3 linked regions of the Homo sapiens genome follow. The protein of the gene in region 1 interacts with the protein of each later gene in a pairwise test. Each region holds a gene or a part of one and is shown in the gene's direction. Other genes may lie near its edges. The genes, in order: BMF, PEX26 and APBB2.

Region 1 (2,401 bases):
CACCCCTTTTGGCAGACTCTCCACCTGAGTTCAGTGAGAGAGAAAATGATTTAGATCTTGGTGCTGGGGCAAGGCCATCAGCTTCAGAGACCTTGCCAGGCCCAGGCTGGGTGCCCTGTGGCCTGAGAACTGAGCCCAGACTTTGACAAACCCACCTCAACATCAAGCCTGGGGCAGGTGGAAGGTGGTCTGACTGCACTGTCTCCATCTTATGCAAAGCCAGGAACTCACTCACTGTCTTAAGTGAGCCAGGGCAAAATTTACACCCCTCACGTTTCCCTCTCCCTTCTTCCCCACCAACAAAACCCAGGAGGTAGCTGGCAGAGTAGCTGTCAGGAAGGAGAAAGGTTCTTTCTGGCTGGTTGTTTTTAATTGGCTTAGTGATCTAAACTGGCCCCTTCCTCCTCTGCCTGGTGAGTTGGCCTAAACATTCCTCAAGTCTAGCCTCAGGAGACCTGCCCCTCCCCCCCGACCTCCACCCCCTCAGACTCCATCCCCCACCCCCAGGAGCCTGGCTGTCTCTAGCGAGGGGTGGAGAATCAGATTTAGAGGGAGGGAGAGTCTGACCTGGATCCTGACCTGTAACCAGCTGAAGACGGTGGAGGCTTTGTGGCTTGCTGAGGGTGGGGGTTGGGAGAGGGACTGGAAACCTTCCTCCTCGGGAAAGAAATGCCTGGGAGGAAGGGAAGCCTGATATTCAGGGTCAAAACAGCCCTTCTAATTCACAACCCCAAAGCAGGGGTTTCTAGAAGTTGGTCAACAGATCTGGTGAGGGAAGTCCCCAGGCCAGACGCTGGACTCCTGCAATGAGGGTGGAGGACTCAGCCTGGCCTCTGCCTGGCCTGTTTCAAAGTCTGGGCCACTGGCAGCCTTCTCTTGCTCAATCCGAGGTGGAAAAAGATCACCTCCCAGTGACCTCCCTCAGCCCCCAGGGGAGTAGGTCTGTGTCCAAAGCTATGTGGCAGGCTTGTTTGAAGGACCCAGAGGGGCCCAGCTGACCTGTCTCACTGCTCCTGGCAGCCCAGCCCCATCGGCAGGTGGCCCCTGCCTGGGGGTTATTCGGGATGGTTCAGCCAGGGCCTCCCAGGAAGAGTGCTGTGGAGCCACGGTGACTGTCCTGGACAGCAAGGAGCATGCTACCCCAGTGAGCACTTCTTTTTGAGGGACTTGATGGGGAGGTGGGGTAGGCAGAAGGGACGTGGCAGAAGCGGGAAGACTTTGGTCACCATGGCTCTGCAGGCCTTCTGCAAATCAGTGCTGGCCTGGGCTGGAAACAGCTCTGTGTGTGAAGGTGAGGACTCTTGGAAGCAGGCCATCCTGGCCAGACACCCTAGCAGGAAGGGGCTCACCTGTCACCCTTAGGCAGCCTGAGGGCTGGTGGGGACTTTTGAGTCTTGAGGGGATAGCGGAAAAAGCTGAGCTCATAGGTGCCCAGCCAGCCTCCCAGCTAAAGGTGCTCAGAGCCCCACTGCCCCCTCTCTCTGTGCAGGTGGCCAGTGCCCCTCCCTGCTCTGGGAGCATTGCTAGCCTTCTACCCCATCCCTGGATCCACAGGGGCTATCGAGGAGACCCAGTGAGAATGTAGCATTTTGTTCATCCCCAGGGTAGCTGCCCTGGGGTCTGGGCACTCTGCCTCTGGGAGAGAGGAAGAAGAAAGGGGCCCCATTTTTTAAAAAACTGTACAGAGCCTTTGGCTTTATGTGTTTATGTTCTTCACATGCATATGTGTGTATGTGTGTATATCTTTCCCCCCATCAATTGGTACAATTTTTAATAAAATCATTTAAAGCAAATCTGGTCTTTTATTTTTCAAGGTGTGGTAAAAATGCAAGGAGATCAGTTAGGAAATTAAAGCCTTCTAGCTTTCTCAGCTGCCAGCTTGAGTGACCTGAAGGCGCTCAGCTTTCGCCGTGATTTCCTTTCCCCTCTTGGAGTTGAGAAGAGTGATTCCGACCACCACGCGATAGGCAGCACAGCAGAGGCCCTGTGAGGGGGAAAGATGCAGGTTTTGGACCCGGTTCCCTCCTCCTCCAGCTGAATGATCTTGGGCAAGTTATGTCACCTCTCTGAGCCTTCAGTTCTTCCACGTGTGAAATACGACTGTGCCGGCCTTGCAGGATTAAAGGGAATGTGTCAAAAGGGCCTGTCTGCCACTGGGACCCAGTGAGGGAAAGGACCCCGGCAGCCCCTCCCGCACACACTACCCCACCCCTCCTTTCTATCAGGGTAGCCCCTCAGGAGGCAAGCTAGTTGTAGGGGGACTTCCTGGCTTGCATTTCTTTGTGGATTAACAATGTGTCTGATTCAAAGCGGTGATTTAAAGCTCTTGACAGAGTTCTGAAAATCCTTGGGAAAAACTACTCCTGATCCTATCAGCAGTAAGTTATGAACTGAGGGGCCA
Region 2 (4,063 bases), on another chromosome or scaffold:
TGGCATGATTGAGGGTGACACATCACGGCAGATGATGGCTGAGGAGACATTGCCCAGAAGTCTCATCTTAGGTGGTTGAGTAGGAAGTTTGTGAAGCAGGTGGTGGGTGAGATGGAGTGGGTAGAGATTCAGGTATGGAGATGTCAGTGTCTAACTTTCTTCTAGTCTTTGCAATTTCACAAGGAAAATCACTAAAATGTGCGTCTCTTCATTTAAAAGAAAAAAAAGTTCATGCCAAAGCTGCTGGGACAAAGAGGACTCATGATAGTGGGTTATTCCACACTGTTGACACACTGAATGTATGCTGGCAGAAGGGCCTCAGGTGGAATGCTGGGCATGGGTTTGCCCCACAGCAGTCTGATTCAAAAGCACCTGAGAGATGGGAGGAGTACTAGGGTTACTAAACACAAGAAGGTGTTTCAGGAGAAACACATCAAGCCATTTGTTTTTGACCCTTAATACTTAACATGAATGATGAGTTGCAGAACAGTCAGTCTTTCCAAGATGTATTGTTCTATCCTCAATAGCTGCAGCCTCTCCAAGCCAGTGGGCTGGTGACATCCAGGATGATCCTCTTCCTTGCCTGGAGGTGGGATCTAGTGCCACAGCTTGTTCGGGGAAGCTGGCATAGAAGATGATTTGCTCAACAAAGTCACCGCTAAACTATCGCTTAGGTCTAGTCCCCGGCCTATGGCACCAAGTACTCCTGGTAGTACTTGTACACAGAATTTCTCTATAATAACCAGAACATGTCATCCATGGTAATGTCTGCTACATATCCAACCACAGCATCAAATTCTGTCTGATGAAGGGCACCAGCCCCTTCATCTTTATCATGCCTAATATTGTGAAGGCCATGTGCTAAATCCAGCAATCCGCTCCAGTAGGTGTCCTTCAGGATACTTTTCTGTCAAGTAAATACATTTATTAAAAATAGGCATGTAGCCGGGCGCAGTGGCTCACACCTGTAATCGCAGTACTTTAGGAGGCTGAGGCGGGCGAATCACGAGGTCAGGAGTTCGAGACCAGCCTGGCCAACACGGTGAAACCCCATCTCTACTAAAAATACAAAAAATTAGCTGGGCATGGTGGCGTGTGCCTGTAATCCCAGATACTCAGGAGGCTGAGGCAGGAGAATTGCTTGAACCCAGGAGGCAGAGGTGGCAGTGAGCCGAGATCGTGCGATCGTGCTATTGCACTCCAGCCTGGGCGACAGTGTGCGACTGCATCTCAAAAAAAAAAAAAAAAAAAAGGCATGTAAAAGTTAATCTCATGGAGGTAGAGAGTAGAATGACAATTACTAGAGGCTGGGCAGGGTGTGTATGTGGGATGAAGAGGTGGCTTGATGGACACAAACATAGATAGAAGGAGTGAGTTCTAATGCTTGATAGCAGAATAGGGTGACCATTGTTAACACTGTATTGGGTGTTTCAAAATAGACGGAATAAAGGATTTGAAATGTTCTCAACACATAGAAATGAGAAATACTCAAGGTCATGGGTATCCTGGATACCCTGAGTTGATCACTACACATTCTATGCATGTAATGAAATGTCACATCTACTTCAATAATATGTACAAATATTATTTATCAAAAAGCAGGCATGTAGGTGAGTTGATTTTCTTCCATGTCTTCAAACTCCTGGTAATACTTGTCCACAAAATTTCTCTATAATAACCGGAACATGTCATCCATGATAATGTGTACTATATATCCAACCACAACATCAAATTCTGTATCAGAGGCAGAAGAGAAGGACAGCATGAAGCTCGATTCCTCCAACTGTCCTTTGGCTGGTGGCCCTCCACCCTGCCCACAGCCCGGCCAGCTCAGCCCCGTCTCTGTCCCATACAGAGCCACAGCCACAGTGAGAGCCTGGCAGCCTGCCCGGAGGAGGCTTCTTGGCCCAGCCCGGTCAACACCCACATGCACCACCACCAACTTTTTGCTATTGTGAATAACATAGCTGTAAACAGATTGCATATGAAAGTGCTGTGAAATCACCAAGGGCTGAGTAGAACAGTTAAGACGATAGTAGTTGTTTTCTTTCTGGGTTTTTCTCTTGGGCTGGTTTTTGAAAGTGGATCTACAACATTGATAGAGATCAGTTTTTCTGCTCTTCCAACATACTGCCAGGACGTGGTCCAGAAAGATTGGGTACTTTGCAATACTCATAGCAATATGTGAAGTGATTGGAAAAAATGAGACTATTCAACCAGTTGTTTCAGTGTTGGTTAGGAGGAAAATGCCCAGAAAGGGGAACAGTTAATCATCTACACAATACCAAGAGCAGGAGGGGATGACCGACGGCTTCATCTTTCCTAGTCTATCCCACACAGACCTTTAGGTGCTCTTTTTTTTCTTTTTTTCGCTCTGTCGCCCATGCTGGAGTGCAATGGCGCGATCTCGGCTCACCACAACTTCCACCTCCCAGGTTCAAGCGATTCTCCTGCCTTAGCCTCCTGAGTAGCTGGGATTACAGGCATGCACCACCACGCCTGGCTAATTTTTGTATTTTTAGTAGAGACGGGGTTTCTCCATGTTGGTCTGGCTGGTCTCGAACTCCCAACCTCAGGTGGTCCACCTGCCTCAGCCTTCCAAAGCGTTGGGATTACAGGCATGAGCCATCGCACCCGCCTCTTTAGGTGTTCTTTTAGGAGCTGGTAGCGGAGGAAGGTGGTTACCCATCTGTGACAGAGCCTTGGATGTCACGAGGCCACAGGCTGGCCTTTCCTCCTGTTTACAGGAGGTGAGTTTTCCTGAGTTCCCAGCCTCAGTGTTCTCTGCACAGTCTGTCACTGACTCCCGCTCCCAGTGCTCACTGCCTCTTGTTCTCACTGCCTCCTGTTCTCACTGCCTCCTGTTTCTGCTGAGTTCTTTGCATCTGCCTGATGTTGGTTTAAAGCTCCACCCCTCCCAGGGGAATTTGTCCCATGATTCACCTCCTCTTTGGTGATCTCTTGATTGCGGCTGCTGCAGCCATGTAAACCTTAAAGGCGAGCCAATTTGTTTGTGATCCAGTGGCCAAAATGGTTCACCCTCAACTTCCCTTAATCCCCTGCAGCATCTGAGACACATGGGTGAATGTATGTAAGGTACTTGGGGCTAACCAAAGTTAAATACATATGACAAGTACCTGAATCTAGATAATCTAATGGTAAGATATCGTTTGCTCTCTGGACTTCATGGGCTCACCCCAGCAATGGGGTGCCTGGAAATGAAGAGATCTTTCTTGTGTCTCATCCTCTGGGCTCCCAGCCTCCCTCAACATCATGACCTCCATCTGTAACACCCACCATCCTGGAGCAGCATCCTGGATATTGGAACTCTGAAGTCTAACCTAAGAGAACAAGGACAAGCCTCTCTATGAAAGGTTTGCCCTTCCAGATCCAGTTGAGCTCTGCTCTGGAGCCAGACTCTCTGAAGCATAGCCCAGCTCTAGCTCTTACCAGTTATGTGATCAGGAATGAGAGTTAATGTTTCTATGTTTCTGATTCTTCATTTGTAAAATGAGGATAATAAAAATTTAACTTCAGAGGTTTGTTGTGAGGAATAAAAGCCATTAGCACAGTGTTTGGCATATAGAAAGTGCTCAGTGTTGGGGAATATTGAACAGATAATGAATATCGCCAAGAGTCTTTTCCTGGGTGATTGATAGAAATTATCTTACCTCCTGCTCTAATGAATGTGGCTCAACTATTTAGGCCATAACTGTAATTATATTTGGTTATATGGCCCCACAGCATTAAAATTCATACAAGAAGAACTTCACTCACACATAGTAACTGGAATGCAGTAGATGTGGATAATTTCTTTAAAAAGCCTAAATCATATGGGTGGTTGTTTTTTCATAAACAGCCTAGGCTTAACTTCAGTTTCTCATCTACAAAAAGGGGACTGTACTAGGGTTCTCCAGAGAAACAGAACCAATAGGTGGTATCTTGAGAGTTATAAGGAATTGGCTCATGCAATTATAGGGGCTGGGAAACCCAGGACCTGCAGTGGTTATGCTGGAGACCCAGAAGAGCTGAAGATGTGGTTCCAGTCTGTCTGAAGCCTGAG
Region 3 (3,656 bases), on another chromosome or scaffold:
GTGGCTCATGCCTGTAATCCCAGCACTTTGGGAGGCTGAGGCAAGAGGATCACCTGAGCCCACAAGTTCAAGACCAGTAAGACCCCATCTCTCCTCCTCCAAAAAAATTAGTTGGGCATGGTGGACGGTGGCATGTGCCTGTAGTTCCAGCTACTCAGGAGGCTGAGGCAGGAGGATCACTTGACACCAGGAGTTCGAGGCTGCAGTTAACCATGATTATGCCATTGCCCTGTAGCCTGGGTGATCGAGCGAGACTCTGTTTCAAAAAACATAAATGTATTTTTAAATGAATAATTAAGCTGCCTCTTCCCTTCACCCCAGCCCCCTTTCCCAGTGATGACCATTACCTTATGTTTTTATTTCCTCTCAGAAAATGTTTGAGTCATAGATCCGCATATTAATAATAAATTTTAAGACCGGCATGATGGCTCACGCCTGTAATCCCAGCACTTTGGAAGGCCAAGGTGGAGAGATGGCCTGAGCTCAGGAATTTGAGACCAGCCTGGGCAACATGGTGAAACCCCTTCTCTACTAAAACATTAAAAATTAGCCAGGCATGGTGGCGGGTGGCTGTAGTCCCAGCTACCTGGGAGGCTGAGGCACAAGAATTGCTTGAACCTATGAGGCGGAAGTTGCAGTGAGCCAAGATCCCGCCACTGCACTCTAGCCTGGGTGACAGGCGAGACTCCATCTCAAAAAATAAAAATTAGGCCAGGCGCAGTGGATCACCAGGTCAGGAGTTCAAGGCCAGCCTGACCAATATCGTGAAACCCTGTCTCTACTAAAAGTACAAAAATTAGCTTGGTGTGGTGGTGCGTGCCTGTAGTCCCAGCTACTCGGGAGGCTGAGGCAGAAGAATTGCTTGAACCTGGGAGACAGAGGTTGCAGTGAACCGAGATTGTGCCACTGCACTCCAGCCTGGGCAACAGAGCGAGACTCCATCTCAAAAGAAATTTAAAAATAAAATTAAATTAAATTAAAATTAAAAAAAAAAACAATAATAATCAATTTTAAAATTTACCCAAATGTTGTGATGATGTTTTTAGAATCCCTATGTTTTAGAGATATATACTAATATAAAATACTAATCTATGTCATAGTATAACATATATAATACAGTATAACACATACTGATGGAAACAATATTGTGTATGGTATTTTCTCCAAAATAATTGGGATTAGAAGGATAAAAAAAGAAACAAAATTGCCCATAAGCTGCTGATTGTTAAAGCTGCATTATGGGTACGTGCGGGTTCATTATTCTATTCTCTAATTTTGTATGTTTAAAATTTGCCACAATAAATAGTTAAAACCAGGAAAAAGTTACTCCAATTAGATTGTTTTATGAATGCTTTGCTTTTTTTCACGTAAGAACGTATTTTGTAGATCAGTCCATTTTTCTACGTCAGTCTTTTTAAGTATTATGTATACTATTCCACTATATACAAGTTCCACGATTTATTTAGCAAGTTCCCTGCTGATGAGTATTTAGGTATTTCTGTCCATAGCCCCTTGGCTTATTGAGTGCTGGTGTCAGTAGGGGCCTGTGGAGAGGGCAAAGTTTGTGCACTCCAGTCTACCTACTGGGACTCTTGAAATGTACACGTTAACTCCCTCTTTCCAGGAAGACTTTCAGGGGCCCCTCTGCTGTGACACTTACCACTCATTTGCTCAGTGTCCTGACATTACTTGCTGTTGGGTTTCCACAGAACATCTTACAGTGCTTGGCCTGTGATGAGAACTGGATTAGAGTTTTTTTTACATGTTAAGAAGATATGCTTAGTTTTCTCTCTGAAAGTTGGTTTTGACAGGATGATGGTGGCCCTTGATAAGTTGCTGAGGATAGGTATTTCAAATCAAATATGCTCGAAAAAATGTATTAGCTGTGACCGAAAAGCAATGAGATTGTGTTTTTAAAAAATATACTAGAAGCCAAACCTATGCCAGCCTTCAAAATGTTCACTTGGGATCTCTGCACCTGCTTCAGCATGTTGCACTGTCTCAATATTAATAGTCATAATTTTGGGAGTCCTCTTTTGGAATTGCCTCAGAGTCTGCTGTGGATCCCCATGAAATGAAATCACTTTGCTTTAATCACACTTCAGGTTTCAGGTAATACATAGATTGGTGAATGAAATAAAATAAGCAGTTTTTTAGCATTGTATTTCTTTTGATTTCATCCTTCCTGTGAAACATACTGTTAGTGTTTAAAATAATCATGATCAGTCTAAATTAAACATTGTATGTTTCACTTGTAATGATAAAGTTAGTGTTTATTATGTATGTTTTATATAGTATATACATGTGTATGTGTATATATATAAAATAAACACAAATACCAACAGTTGAAAGAAAAGAGAAAACGAGAGCAAATATCTTGTGACATCTTAGTATGCCATGCCATAGTACATGTATAAAAAGGGTATAGTTGTCTGTTGACTTGCTGTGTGTTAAATACATAGTCATCACAGTGGTGTGTGTTTTATGACTAAATCATGATGCAATTATCTTTGGATCGTAGACTGCACTTTGGGGAGCCTAGAAAAATAGACTCATTTCTACCTCAGGGGCATCCTTTCCAAGTTAGAATGCTATTTATACAATAAAATGCAATGGCTAACCTAGAGACTGACTACTTTCTATTTTCCTTTACTACTGAATCGCCCCCTCCAGCTGTTTAGTAACTTCTTTTTGTACAATCAATCATGTATACAATATGTGGCTGCCCTTTTCCTCCTCTGTAGTCTGTCCTTTAAGAAAACAAGAGGCTATTTGAAAAAGGAAAAGCATCTGTGAAATGACTATTTTCATAGGAGTTTAGAAAAGTTAAAGAGTGCCTTGGCCCTGATTCTAAAAGAAAGGTTGTATCTTGCTACTGCAAAGTGAGAACTTTGAATCTAGTTAGGGTTTTTTTCAAAGATACAGTTCCCTCAGTGGCCCCAGGTAGTAAGCATGATGGCTCAGATAAATAAATACCTGTTGGTCACACTGTATATAGTCTCTCTGTTAATCACTTAGTGTTTCATGTTTGCTTTATGAAAACGTTGAAAAGATGCATCATTTTGAACCTTCCTGGGTACAGGTTTCAGTGGTACCCACATGTAATTTTATGTTTAGTTTGGGATTTAATAAAATTGAAGACACAGAGTATGAAACTAGATGGATCTTGTGTAGTAACTGTTTCAAAATCAGATTCATTGCTAAAGTGTACAAAAGCAGAATTATACACAGAGAAAACCAAGTCCCAAGTCTAGATGGGTGTGGCAATGCGCCTCATGATCCATTAACTTATCATTAAGAGCATAGGCTCTAGAGTGAGCTTCCTGAGTTCAAATCCCAGCTCTGCTATATCTAGGCAGTTCTCATAGCCTCTCATCTATAAAATGGGGATAAGAGTGTTTTGGCATAGACCTGCTGTGAAGATTAAGCGAGAGCATCTTCAAAGAGCTTTTAGGAGCAGTATCTGGCATATAGCAAGAGCTCAATGAATATTCATGATTATTATATTAGAGACAGTATCAGTACAGTGGTGTGTTATAAAAGTTTGCTTTTCTCTTAATTATGAATTACCTATATTTTGGACTCTGAGTTACGACTTTCTGGACCTTAAGAGCAAGGGTTGGTTCATCTTCATCTTTGTATTTTCAGTGCCTGGA

Evidence for each region.
Region 2: the proteins of BMF (region 1) and PEX26 interact in binary tests that used the Homo sapiens proteins (3 or more experiments, as listed by UniProt).
Region 3: the proteins of BMF (region 1) and APBB2 interact in binary tests that used the Homo sapiens proteins (3 or more experiments, as listed by UniProt).

What each region holds. Positions count from the first base shown.
Region 1 is NC_000015.10:40,087,282-40,089,682, reverse strand, and holds the end of BMF (bcl-2-modifying factor), read left to right. Parts: 3' UTR 1-1,793; downstream 1,794-2,401. UniProt on the Homo sapiens protein: May play a role in apoptosis. Isoform 1 seems to be the main initiator.
Region 2 is NC_000022.11:18,101,861-18,105,923, forward strand, and holds the end of PEX26 (peroxisome assembly protein 26), read left to right. Parts: 3' UTR 1-3,536; downstream 3,537-4,063. UniProt on the Homo sapiens protein: Peroxisomal docking factor that anchors PEX1 and PEX6 to peroxisome membranes. PEX26 is therefore required for the formation of the PEX1-PEX6 AAA ATPase complex, a complex that mediates the extraction of the PEX5 receptor from peroxisomal membrane.
Region 3 is NC_000004.12:41,008,488-41,012,143, reverse strand, and holds part of APBB2 (amyloid beta precursor protein binding family B member 2), read left to right. Parts: intron 1-3,656. UniProt on the Homo sapiens protein: Plays a role in the maintenance of lens transparency, and may also play a role in muscle cell strength. Involved in hippocampal neurite branching and neuromuscular junction formation, as a result plays a role in spatial memory functioning.